Linked DNA regions of Homo sapiens. The protein of the gene in region 1 interacts with the protein of each later gene in a pairwise test. Each region holds a gene or a part of one and is shown in the gene's direction. Other genes may lie near its edges.

Evidence for each region. The genes of interacting proteins can lie anywhere in the genome.
Region 2: the proteins of PLEKHS1 (region 1) and ERN1 interact in binary tests that used the Homo sapiens proteins (3 or more experiments, as listed by UniProt).

Annotation. Positions count from the first base shown.
Region 1 is NC_000010.11:113,761,666-113,768,691, forward strand, and holds part of PLEKHS1 (pleckstrin homology domain-containing family S member 1), read left to right. Parts: intron 1-3,153; exon of another isoform or gene 3,154-3,715; coding exon of another isoform or gene 3,716-3,725; intron 3,726-4,745; coding exon 4,746-4,834; intron 4,835-4,946; coding exon 4,947-5,053; intron 5,054-5,679; coding exon 5,680-5,814; intron 5,815-7,026.
Region 2 is NC_000017.11:64,043,145-64,050,170, reverse strand, and holds part of ERN1 (serine/threonine-protein kinase/endoribonuclease IRE1 precursor), read left to right. Parts: intron 1-968; coding exon 969-1,116; intron 1,117-2,185; coding exon 2,186-2,313; intron 2,314-4,688; coding exon 4,689-4,812; intron 4,813-5,243; coding exon 5,244-5,311; intron 5,312-5,970; coding exon 5,971-6,183; 3' UTR 6,184-7,026. UniProt on the Homo sapiens protein: Serine/threonine-protein kinase and endoribonuclease that acts as a key sensor for the endoplasmic reticulum unfolded protein response (UPR).

The DNA of each region.
Region 1 (7,026 bases):
ATTCTTTGGGATTTTTAACATATGAGATTATGTCACTTGCAAATAGAAATGATTTTATTTCATTCTTTTCCATTTGGATGTTTTATTTATTTTTACTTATTTTGGATGCATTTTTTAATGTTTTAAATAAGTTTGCTAAGAGTTTTCAATCAAGAAGAGTAATGCTAGCCTCATAGAATGAGTTGAGAAATATTCCCTTCTCTTCAATTTTTTTGGGAGGCTTTGTGTAGAATTGATTATTTCTTGCTTACATGTTTGATCAAAGAGAACAGTACAGCCACTTGGGCCTATATGAAGAATTTTTAACTACAACTCCAATTTCTTTAATAACTATAGGAGGCTATTCAGGTTATCTATTTCTTCTTCAGTGACCTTTGTTGGTGTAGTTCAAGGAATTTTTCAGTTTACCTAAGTTGCCAAATTTATTGGAATAAAGTTGTCTATAATATTTCTTTATTATCCTTTTAATATCAGTAGACTCTGTAGATATGTCCCCTCTCTCCTCCTAATATTGGCAAATTGTGTTTTCTCTCCAGTTTTTCTGGTCTATCTGCCTAGGTAGAGGTTTGTTAACTTAATCTTTTTAATGGATTAACTTTGGTTTCATTGGTTGTCTCTGTTGTTTTTCTGTGTTCTCTTTCATTGAATTCCACTTTTATCTTTATTATCTCCCTTCCTCTATTGACTTTAGATTTGTTCCTTTTTTTTTTTTTTTTTTTTTCAGTTTAGTTTCCTGAAACGTTTCAGGTGGAAGCTGAGGTAATTAATTTGAGACTTTTGTTCTTTTCAAACATGGCCATTTCTAACATAGCCATTAAAAAATTTTTCCCTAAGTACTGCTTTAGTGGCATCCACAAATTCTGATACCTTGTGTTTTAATTTTCATCCAGTTCAAAAAACTTTCTAATTTATTTTTGGGATTTTTTAAATTTAGAGATTATTTATTTCAGGATCTTTTAAGAGGTCTGTTATTGATTTATAATTTGATTTCATAGTGCTCTGAAAACATGATTTATATGATTTGAATGCTTTTAAATTTATTGAGACTTGTTTTATGGCCCAGAATACATCTATATTAATAAATGTTGCATGTGCCCTTGAGAAGAATGTATACTCTATTGTCATTGAGTGGAATGTTCTATAAATATCAATCAGTTAAAGTTGGTTGGTAGTGTTGTTCAAGCCTACTGTATTCTTGCTGATTTTCTACAAAATTGAAGAGAAGGGAATATTTCTCTACTCATTCTATGAGGCCAGCATTACTCTTCTTGAATGAAAACTCTTAGCAAACTTATTATTTAAAACATTAAAAATGCATCCAAAATTTAAAAAATCAATTTTAGCACTATTTGTTCTATCAGTTCTTGAGAGAGGGATATTGAAATCTCTATAATTGCGGATGTGTCCATTTATTCATGCAGTTCTATCAGTTTTTGCTTCATGTATTTTGAAGCTATGTTATAAGGGCATATATGTTTAAATTTTTATGTCCTCTTAGGATTAATTCATCCCTTTATTATGAAATGATATTCTTTGTCCTTGGTAATATTATTTGCTTTAAAATCTACATTGATGTTAATATAGGCACTCCAGCTTTCTTTGACTAGCGTTGGCATAGCATATCTTTTTTTCCAGTTATTTCCTTGTAACCCACTTGTATCTTCATCTTTAAAGTGTGTTTCTTACAGGCAGCATAGAGTTGAGTCTTGCTTTTTTATCCAATCTGGTCATCTCTGTTTTTTAATTGAGGTGTTTAGACCATTTACGTTTAACATAATTACTGATATAGTCAGGTTTAAATGTATCATATTGTTATTTATTTTCTGTTTGTCCTATTTGTTGTTTGTTCTCCCTTTCCCCCTTTTCTGCCTTCTTTTGGAATAATCGAATTTTTTATGAATCCATTTTATCTCCTTTGTTGGCTTATTAGTCATTACTTTCTGTTTTGTTATTTTAGTGATTGCTTTAGGGTTTATACACATCACAGTCTAACTTCAAGTGATAGTATACCAATTCACATATAATAAAAGAACTTTACAAAAGCGTATTTCCATTTTTCCCTATTGGCCTTTATGCTACTGTTGGAATGCATTTTACTTGTACATATGTTATAATCTGCACAATACATTGTCTTTATTTTTGTTCAGTTAATGTTTTAATGTTTTCAATAATAAGAAAATAATTTCATACATTTACCCCAGTAGTTACCATTTCAGTGCTTTCAATTTGTTTAAATTCAGATTTTTATGTTATCATTTCCCTTCTTCCTGGACTTCCCTTCACATTTTTTATACTGCAAGCCTCCTAATGATGAATTATTTCAGCCTTTATATATCTAAAAAGTCTTTAAATTGCCTTCATTTTTAAAAGACATTTTTGCTGAATATAGAATTTTGAATGAGAGTATTTTTTCAGTACTTTAAATATAGTTTGCTTGTTTGTTTGTTTGTTTTGAGATGGAGTCTCACTCTATCGCCCAGGCTGGAGTGCAGTGGCGCTATCTCGGCTCACTGCAACCTCTGCCTCCCAGGTTCAAGCCATTCTCCTGCCTCAGCCTCCCAAGTAGCTGGGACTACAGGCTTGCACCACCATGCCCGGCTAATTTTTGTATTTTTGTAGAGACAGGGTTTCACCATGTTGGGCAAGCTGGTCTCAAACCCCTGATCTCAGGAAATCCACCACCTCAGCCTCCCAAAGTGCTGGGATTACAGTTGTGAGCCACCACACCCAACCCTTAAATATATTGTTTTACTTTTTCTTGCTTGCATTTTTTTTCTGATGAGAAATCAATATCTCTGTTTCTTGTCTTTTTTCTGTATGCAATAGGTCTTTTCTTCCTCTGGCTACTTTTAAGATTTGTTTTCTTTATTGCTGGTTTTGAACAATTGAGTTATGACATGCCTTGGTGTACTTTTCTTTGTGTATCTTGTGCCGAGATTCATTGAACTGCTTGGATCTCTGGGATTATAGTTTTAGGTTTATAAAATTGTTAGCATTATTACTTCAGATATTTTTTATTTCTCCCTCTCTCACTTCAGGGACTCCTATTACTTATATACTAGGCTACTTGAAATTGTCCACAGTGTACTGGTGCTCTTTCTGAGTTTTAAATTATGTTCTAACTCTTTGTTTATGTTGTTAGTTACAGTTGCCATGCCTTTAAGTGCACTAATCTTTTCTTGTACAATATTTAATCTGCTCTTACTCCCATCCAGTGTTGTTGCTGTTTTTTTGAGACATTGTAGTTTTCATCTTTAAAATTTCACTTTAGGTCTTCTTTATATCTTTTATATCTCTCCCTAACTTTTTGAAAATATAGTGATAATAACTGCTTTAATTACTTTCTCTGCCAATTCTAACATCTGTGTCAGTTCTAGGCCTGTTTTGATTGATTGACTTTCTTCTCATTATTGATCATGTTTTCCTTCCTCTTTGTATGCCTGGTAAACTTTGATTGACTGCCAAACATCGCAAATTTTACCTTGTTGTTTCCTGAATATCTTTGTATTCCTATGAATCTTGAGCTTTGTTCTGGGATACAGTTAAATTTTTTGGGAACAACTTTCTTCTAAGTCTTTCATGATTTTTTAGGTGGGTTTGGAGCAGTGCTCAGTGTAGAACTAGTAATTAGTGTAGAGCTAATTATTCCTCACACTGAGGCAAGACATTCCTGAGTACTCTACCCAATGCCCTGTAAATTATAAGTTTTTCCAGTATGGCTGGAGGTAACAAGCACTTTTTCTGAATCTCTGATGTATTTTAATGGTTCTTTCTCTGGCCTCAGGTAGTTTCAGCACACACATGTGTTAATCGACACTCTTGAATACTTGAGGGAGACAGTATATATTGCCCTTTGGCTTAGCAGACAAAAGCAAAACCACTCACTATTGAAAACGGGGTGGCAGAAGTGATTAAATAAAGAAGTTTCTAAAATGTTAACTGCTTCTCTATAAGTGATGAAATTATAGGCAGTTTTAATATTTTCTATATTTTCTAAAATGTCTACAATAAATATGTATCATATTCACTATTTAGAAAAACACAATGTTGTTAAACACAGTGTTGTTATTTTTGTTTTCATTTTGGGTTTGTTTTTGTTTTTGTTTTAGCTTGGATTTGCTTTCACATCCAGGCTATAGGTTTAGTTTGTCCTCAGTTTTGGAAAGGGCAGTCTTTACTAAAAAAATTAGAGCTTCTTTATTAAGTGAAAACAGACTTAAGATTTGGTAATACAGTATTTGGTAATAGCTGGGGCTATTAGGATAGTATCCAGTAATTCTGGGGAGGTGGCTGTGTTTACCTTCACTCCTTTTCCAACTTCTGCAGCAACTCTACCTGTCCCCCTTCCCCAGATAGTTTTTGCCACTTCATTTTTAATAGCAGGTGCTTTTGCTCTTGTTTGCTAAGCCAAAGGGCAATGCAGAATTATCATGCTTCTGCAATGGAAATACAGCCAAATCTTTGCTCACACGTAGAGAGCCAACGACATACTCTAGAAACAGAAAGCCAGACAGGTGTGAGCTGAATTAACATGGTTTCAAATGTTGTTTGAATGAAGGTCTCGGCTGTGGAGGAATAAGAATCATACATTTGGTCCTTTGTTTTCTTGGGTTATTATAGGTGTCCTTTTCCATAACTACTGAATAATCTGAAGGTCTTTCCAGAGATAAACAGTGTTTTCCAATTGAGGCAGTTCTTTTCAGAAATTTATGAGGAACAAACTGAGTTCTGTTCACTTTTATTAGGCAAACAATTTACATTTTCTTATGAAAATGAAGTCTGCAAACAAGATTACTTTATTAAATCACCACCTTCTCAGCTGTTCTCCTCTGTGGTAAGTATTTGCTGTGATTTAACAAGCCTCCCACCAGCCTCATGAGCATTTTTAAAAATCATTTCTTTTCCTCTGAGATTTAACTAAGACATAAAATCTTTTTATTTTTCAGACCTCTTGGAAAAAGCGGTTTTTCATCCTGTCAAAGGCTGGGGAAAAGAGCTTTAGTCTTTCCTATTATAAAGACCATCATCACCGAGGTTCCATTGAAATTGATCAGTGTGTATCCAAGCAGGAAAACTTTTATAACAACAAATACTATAAAGTCAAACAGTAACAAGTTGCATGCAAATTGAAATTTACATAATTGACCAAAGGAACCTGCTTCAAGCTGATTATAATATTTGTGACTGAATAGGAGCTAAAATAGTGAGCACTTTGAGTTAAAAGATAGTTGAATATTTGTTTCATATTGTATGTCATACTTGATAAGTCTTTAATTAACAGGCATTCAGTTAAGGAGTTTGATTCACATAATTTGTGGATGAGAGGGAGCAGATGAAATTGTCATTTTATAAAGTCAAGATAGAGTTTTAAAAAATATTTAGATCAGCTTTTTTTGGTCTTCTCTTTAATAAATTGTGCACCCCAAAATTGAAAAACATAATTTGTGGAATCAAGAATCCAATTAAAATAGAAATTTTTGAATCTTAGGCTAAACAAAATAATTTCAATTAATTAACCAGATCAAAAAATCCAAACTTATCTTCTAAAATTATTGGACAATCTTGGAAACATGGATCCAGCACATCTAAAGTTTTATTCCATTTGAATCCCAATATAAAATATTAGTTTTCTATTTCTGTATTTACCTTGGTTTAATACTTTGTGTCTATATCTAATAGAAATTCCAGTGTAGAAGTTGGCATAAGTAGCCAGGAAAAGATGCAATCTGTGCAGAAGATGTTTAAATGCCACCCTGATGAGGTCATGTCCATCAGAACCACTAACAGGGAATACTTCCTCATTGGCCACGACAGGTGAGAGAAGTAAGATAACACAGAATATCTACTGCATGCAAAACAAAAACAAACCAAAAAACAAAACATTTTATACCAATAAACATGTTCTGAACCCACGCTACAAACCTCAAATGCCATCTTGGCAATCTTAGTTATTTTTAAAAATATCTTGAAAAGTTACTGAGCTAGTTTCCTAGGGCTGCTATAACAAAGAACCTCATCCTGGATAACTTTGAACAACAGAAATTTATTGTCTCACTGTTCCAGGGGCTAGGAGTCCGAAATTAAGGTATGGGTAGAGCCATGCTCTCTCTGAAGACTCCAAGGAAAGATTTGTTCCAGGGGCCTCTCCTAACTATTGGTAGTTCCCTTGGCTTGAGGCAACATAACTCCAGTCTTCACATGGCGTTCTCCCTGTGTGCATAGCTCTGTGTCCAAATTTCCCCTTTTTATAAGAACATCAGTAATATTGGATTTGGAGCCCTCTCTATTCCAGTATGACCTCATCTTGACCAATTACATCTGCAACAACCCTCTTTCCAAATAAGGTCACATTCTGAAGTATTGGGATACGGAACTGAAACATACAAATTCATTGTATTTTTGCGGGGAGGGTACATTTCAACCGATAACAGTCACCATCACCCCAGAAGCATTCCATGTAAAAGAACCCAATACAAAAACATCTACACAAGCTACATATATTAGGGAGGAACTAGGCTTGCCCCCAAAGTAGTCTGCAGTTTTTAAGAGGGGCTTCTGGTCCTAGCAAAGGTGCCTAGTGGACTCTTCATGGATGATTATCTGCTTGAGGGAGAGGCAAAGCGGGTGTGGGAGAGACTGTGCAGAGGAGGCGGACAATGCCAAAGCCAACATATGAAAAACCCTGATCTGTTTCAGATTGACCAAAGCTTCCTTTTAAGTTGTCCTGTGAGTCCATAGAAAAGATGTGATTATACAAATTCACTCAAGCACATTCTTCATCAACACATGCACTCCCTAAGGGAAGGCCCACCTGCATAGTTACACAAAAATGACACTGACAGGTTAGGGGGCTTGCTTGAGAACACAAAGGAAATCAATGTCAAAGCCGAAAGCCCCAAACCCTGTGATTACTACTATTATTTTCTACTTTTCTTCCCTTTCTCTGAGCTTTCCTTGCAGAGGTGGCTGAGCATTAATTCTAGTGTGCAAATGTGGAGGTGGCGAGGCCATTTAAGCTACTTAGGA
Region 2 (7,026 bases), on another chromosome or scaffold:
TTTGGAGATTGGAAGACCTGAGTCCCATCCTGGTTTATCACATCCAGCAGTGACCCTGAGCTTGTCATGCAACCTTTCTGTCCACGTTCTCATCTGGGGATGAAAGCATTTGCTCTGCTCGCCTCACAAGGTTGTTGTGAGGCTGAATGAGAGTGCTGTGTTGTTCAAGGTGTGTCTCCTCCAGCATGGGAGGTGATGAGCCCCTGCTTCCTCACACTAGACCCTCACTTCACCTGGTGGAGAATCTCAGAGGCAGGGCCTACTAACAGGGACCCAAGCTGTGCTCAGGAACCACCTTGGTATTACACCCCAGGTAGCATGAGCTAAAAAACACAAACGTACATTTCCCTCGAAGGAAGCTATTCTGTAGACACAGAATGGTTTCATGGGATAAGTGAGAGGCTTTCTCGGATTAACATCAAACATGACCTCCTTGGTAACTTGTCAGATAGTTTCTTTCTAGGGCTGTTTTTGAATCATAAGCTGTTTTATTCACTTATTAGCAATTTTGATACCTACTGTGTGCAGGCACCATTCTGGGCCCTGGGGGTACAGCAGGGAAGCAACGACACAGAGACCCTGTCTGTGAGCACTTTCGTGTTGGGGGTAAGGAATATATAACAGCCAGGAGGGCTTTTGATGGGCCAAGCACTGTCGTAAGCAACCATTTTTGCATATTAATGCATCTCTTTTGACAACAGCCCCATGCTGTCAGTGTCCTCATCTCACATGAGAGGGAACCAGGGGCTTCCAGGTGGCTCCAAGCCCAGGTTCTCCACTGGGACCTCTGACACCCATGCAGTGCTGCAGGTTAGCCCTCGCTGCTCTGTGCAGCTCACATATGTCAGCTGATTCTCCCAGGACACCTTCTAGGTGGCAGAAGCAGCAGCAATGCTCCTCCCTCCCTGACTGTGAGTGAGGATGAAAACTCTGCTCCCAGACCTCTCACGCCTCATGTCTCTTTTCAGACCTACACGGTGGACATCTTTTCTGCAGGCTGCGTCTTTTACTACGTAATCTCTGAGGGCAGCCACCCTTTTGGCAAGTCCCTGCAGCGGCAGGCCAACATCCTCCTGGGTGCCTGCAGCCTTGACTGCTTGCACCCAGAGAAGCACGGTGAGCGGTCCAGGGGTTGGGGTTGGGAGCAGCTCCTCAGCTGCCTCAGGTGGCCCTGCAGAGCTGGGCTGGTGCCACCTTTGCACTCACAGAGGCCGTGGTGCCCCAGCTGCTCACCCCGCAGGCCTCAGGACCTCCAGACTTGTGCCAAATCTGGTAGAGGGTTGGTAGGGTTATCTCTGGGGCGCCACCTTCTAAAGCTGAGATGCTCCAAGGTTCCTCCAGGTCACCAACTACTTGTGTGACCTAGGCAAAGCCCCCTTTGGAGACCTTCTTTTTCTACCTGGTGACATGAGGGTTGAATAATCAGAGGTCCCTTCCTGCACTGGCATTTGGGAAGACAAATTGTCTTCTCTCTTGGGATGGCGAGTGGTCAGTAGGTGCAGTCTGTGCTGGGCTGGGGACAGACAAGCTTTATCCTCACCCTCCTGGTCTCCTGGTATGGGTGCAACAAGTCTTTCTTCCAGACTTCAGGTTTTCCTGGGTGGTAATTGGCCCATGACACTCCAGTGCTGCCTTTTGAAAAAATTACAACTAAATTATTGTTTTGTTTATGCTTAATTTTTCTTATTATAGAAAACACAGATTAGCATAAAGGCCCATATATTCCCATTATACAGGGATGAATGATGGCTATTGATACCTTTGCATATACGTTATTCCAGTCATTTATCTAGACGTGATTGCATATTTTATAAAAATACAGTTAAATCCTGCATACTGTTTTGCAGCATGCACGTTTTTCAGCGTCACCTTGAATCTCTCTCCACGTCAATCCATATTTAGTCACAGCCGCACTTTAACAGCTCATGGCCCAGCGTAGGGAGGCACCGTAGTGTATCCACTTGGGCCTCTGATACTGGATGTTTACAGTCACTTCCTTCACAAACCATGCAGTGAGGACTCACCTCTTTGGCTGAGGTTTTGTGTCTGTTCCTAATTATTTTATTGGAATAAATTCCTGTAAATAGAATCATAAATGAGAGGGTGTGCAGCTTTTTAAAGTTTTTGGTATTTCACTGTGGCTTTGGACTGGTAGTCATGAGTTGCTTATTTTCCTCCTTTATAGAAGACGTCATTGCACGTGAATTGATAGAGAAGATGATTGCGATGGATCCTCAGAAACGCCCCTCAGCGAAGCATGTGCTCAAACACCCGTTCTTCTGGAGCCTAGAGAAGCAGCTCCAGTTCTTCCAGGTAGAGACGTCTGTTCTCTTTATCCAGAGTCTTCATTTAATGTTTTTCAGATTTTGAAAATACAGAAAAGGACAAAGAATAAAATAAATTGCCCATTACCCTAAAACTGGAAGATAATCATGGCTGATGTTTTAATGTTTTCTTCATATATAAAAGTATAATTGGGATCTAACCGTATATACAGTTTCAGAATCCCTTTTTTTAACTGTACATGATATTTTAAGTTTCTTTCATGTTAAAGTTCTAAAATTCCAATGACCATAGTATTCTATCATATGGATGTGCCATAATGGTTAAGCTTTATATTATGGAATTTCCAAATATATAATACATAAATGTTTAAATGCTATAATGAGCACTCCTTTATTCATCCCTCAGGTTCAATAAATATTAACCTTCACCCTCTCCCCACCCCAGGTTATTTCGAAGTAAATCTCAGGCATCATATAATTTCATTCAAGTGTCATAAGCTTATTTATTTATTTTTATTTTTTTTGAGACAGCGTTTCACTCCGTTACCCAGGCTGGAGTACAGTGGTGCAATCTTGGCTCACTGCAACCTCTGCCTCCCGGGTTCAAGTGATTCTCCTGCCTCAGCTTCCTGAGTAGCTGGGATTACAGATATGCACCACCACGCCTGCCTAAGTTTTTTTGTATTTTTAGTAGAGATGGGGTTTCACCATGTTGGCCAGGCTGGTCTTGAACTCCGGACCTCAGGTGATCTGCCCGCCTCAGCCTCCCAAAGTGCTGGGATTACAGGCATGAGCCACCAGGCCCAGCCCAAGTGTCATAAATTTCAGTGCTTTCTTATATTGTATTTGTTTCTATCATCTTTTACACAGTCTTGGCCCAGATCTCCTTTTGCTTAAAATAGGTTCTGCAAAGTTAGAACTCCTTTGGTGATTTGACTGTTTTAAAGCTTTGTGACAATGTCAGGTGACTTTTGAAGAGGTAATGTGTTTTTCAAAGTCTTCCATGTATGAATTGAACATAACTCACCCGAACGCCTCCTGCCCAGCACGTGGCTCTGAAAGCAGGCTTGTGGGGCAGTGCTTTTCCCCTTGGGTCCAGGCAGAGTGCAGCTTGGTGGGCACCGTACTGAGAAGTGACCATCATGCTCTCCTGGGGTCTGACTGGGGCCTTGGCCAGAGGGAAGCCCCCAGAATGTAAGCTCCTCGAGGACAGGAGTGCTTGACTGCTGCATTCACTACTGTGTCCCTGCCTCCTAGGGAGGACGCTGCCTGGCCCAACCATTCAGATGGATCGGGTTGGGAAGAGTTTAATGCTGTCTTCCATGTTGTAGCATATGGATTGGTCACTGTGTCCATGGACATAATGTGAAAATTCTCAAGTCCATATGTCTTCCAGGGACTTGTGAAAACTAACCAGGTCATTTTGATCGCAAAATATAGAACAGGAATAAAACCCACACAAAGGGACCTTCACCCACCAAGGGACAGGATTTAAATGCTTAGTATCTCCAGGTCATATGTCTCTCGAACACACCTGGCTTCCACTCAGGTCATTTAGCCGTAACAGCTTTGCAGCTCAGACACGTGTGTTCCCAGTGTACCCAAGTTGACAATCTAACCTCTCCACAGCTTCTCTCTGACAATTGTAAATTAGGAGTTCAGCCAGTCTGGCTTCATCTTCATCATAGAAAAGGCTGCTCTGAGAAAAGGGTCTCCTAAGGCTACTTAACATTGATGTAGACAGGGCTCACCACTCCCTGTGTCCTCAGCTGTCGACCTGTCTTACTGGTGGGACTTCAAGAGGCCATACTTGGGTGCTTCCTGACCCTCTCCTTATTACCAAAGTCAAATGCAGAGCAAGGTTTGAATCCCAACAGGAGCCTCTGGAGCCCATACTCTTGCCACCAAGTTTCCTCTTTGAGAAGAAGGCCCAGCTTCACAGGTCTTTTCTACTGGTGGAGGGAAGAGTGGCGACCCTCCACCAGTTATGGGCTTGAGCATACCCTGTTTCAGTGAGTAGACAAAGCACGGGATGCACATCAAATCTGAGCTTTCCTTTTCTTTTTGGTTTTGGTTCATTGGATATAGATTGCACTTGCGGCTCCGTACACATGGCGTGTGTGTGCACATGTGAAATTCAGGGTATGCGTTCGTGGTCTATATGCAGGTGTACTCTGTGACACCTCTCTGACATGGGAGAAGCTCTCTGTGGGCCTGTGCTTCGTGAGGAACAGAGCAGCTCACAGGGAAAGTCATGGATGAGGGAGGGAGGGGGCAGGGTGCCTGCTGCCCAGCTCTGGGGCAGGCTTATGTGTCAGTGATGATCTGTTACTGAGTCCCAGTCGCACAGCTCTCAGCATCTCCAGCACTGACCATCATCTGCTGCCCTTGTTTCTCTCACAGGACGTGAGCGACAGAATAGAAAAGGAATCCCTGGATGGCCCGATCGTGAAGCAGTTAGAGAGAGGCGGGAGAGCCGTGGTGAAGATGGACTGGCGGGAGAACATCACTGTCCCCCTCCAGACAGGTGATCATGCTGCAGCGTGTGAGAGGGCAGGTTGCAAAAGTCGCTGCCGCCTTTCCAAAAAGTAAACGTGGAAATGGCCGCTCCAGGCTGTTCAGGCCCCACATCCCACCTGTCAGGTTTGAGACTTTCTTGGGTGTGTCCTCTGTGGTTTGGTTACACTGATGTGTGTTTCATTTTTGTTCCCTAGAGTGACAGGTGAGTGATGGTGTCGTGCTCTAGGTGGTCATTTCTGACCTGGGTGTGATCACCAGGTGGGGTTCAGGGGGATACCACCCTTGGGTTGGATGGGAGGATCTGCTCCCATGCCTAGGTGTGGAGTGACCTCACCTTTCAGTCCAACTCCCTAATCCCAGGACCCCATGAATTGTTTTCTTTTAAAATGTATTAGTTTTAAATTTGATTACCCATTGCTTCCCTCAATGTTTTTCTAGACCTGCGTAAATTCAGGACCTATAAAGGTGGTTCTGTCAGAGATCTCCTCCGAGCCATGAGAAATAAGGTAAGCAGTTTGTAAATGCTGGGGAGGAGACCCAGTGGCCATGACATGGACACCTTCCTCCTTTCATCCATTCTTTATAAATCTTTTATCTGTACTGGCATTCTCATCTCTCAGGAGCTAGGCGGCTTCAGCTGGACTTGGCAAACTGCAGGCTGTTGCCTCTCTTACGCTGATTTTCCCTTCAGGGACGTAGGTGCAGGTGAAGCTCCGGGAAGCAGTGCTCTGCGGCCCATGTCCCTCATGGTCTCTGGTCGCTGACTTTTGTGGGGCCCTCTCCCTGTCTGATGCAGCCACTGTGTGTAAACATGTATAAACATACCTCAAATGCGGGGACCCCACTGGGACGGACACTCCAATCTCAGGCGACTTTACTCCTCCTGAGGTGGCCAGGAGTGTCTCCAGGTCCTGACTGTCACAGAAGGCCTGAGCACCCCCTGGACTGGCTGGGCCTTGCTCACTTCAAGGCCTCCTCCTGAGTGAGGGTAGCAGGCGAGATGACGGGGCTGGATTCTTGGATACATAAGCCTTTTTTCTTTTTCTTTACCAAAAACCAACACTCACATTCTGTCTCTTCCTTGCATGATGAAAGGGTGTTTTGCCAACATTTCCCGAGCTTTCTAACCCCTTTCTAATCTCCCGAGCTTTCTAACTCTTTGCAGAAGCACCACTACCGGGAGCTGCCTGCAGAGGTGCGGGAGACGCTGGGGTCCCTCCCCGACGACTTCGTGTGCTACTTCACATCTCGCTTCCCCCACCTCCTCGCACACACCTACCGGGCCATGGAGCTGTGCAGCCACGAGAGACTCTTCCAGCCCTACTACTTCCACGAGCCCCCAGAGCCCCAGCCCCCAGTGACTCCAGACGCCCTCTGAGCGAGGGCGGCCCCTCTGTTCTGGTGGCCCCAGCTGTGACTGAGGGCCTGGTCACCACAATTAGAGCTTGATGCCTCCCGGCTTTGCAGGGAGACCAGGCTTCCCAAACCAAGTGCCTTGAGCTGCCTGCTCTGCAGCCCACAGAGGACAGTGCTGACCCCAGGAAGTGGGAGAAGTGGCCCCTCGTGACCTACAGGGAACTGGGAAGATGCTGGCCCCAAAAGCCTTACGGTCATGATGTCTGCAAAGGAGGGCCTCAGAGACAGCGCGAGTAGCACCCCCAGCCATCTACTGGATAAACTTGCTTCAGACTTTTTAAATTCCTGCTTAATGTCAGTCTACAGGCCTTTCAGGAAGGGAGAGGAGGGAATCGTACATTTTGCTTGCGTGCTGGGACAGCTAGGCTGAGATGCACCAAGTACAGCCTTCACTGGAGACCGGAATTGAGAGGTGGGGGATGCTGAGGAGGGGGAGGACGGAGTTCAGAGGGTGTCGTCCTGCAGTGTGAGATTTCTCATTGATCACAGATGTGCCCAGAGTAGCCCAGGTCACTGTTAACTAGTGTTTCTGCAGAGGCAGCAGGAGCCATGAGCATGAGGTGTGGCATTAGGGACTGGTCAGCTATGCATGCTGGCAGGTGGGGTTGTGTCTGCAGGTCTCAGAAATGAAGAGGCTGCTCTGTTCTGGAGGCAGCCGTGGCCCAGTGCCAGTGGCCAGAACAGTGGCCTTTGGTGGGTGTGTCCCGGGCCATCTCGGGGTGGTGCTCAGGAGCGCCTGGGGCAAGAGGTAAAGAGTTCCCTGGCCTTCAAGGAGAGCAGCGAAGACCCAGACAGGGGCCAGCCT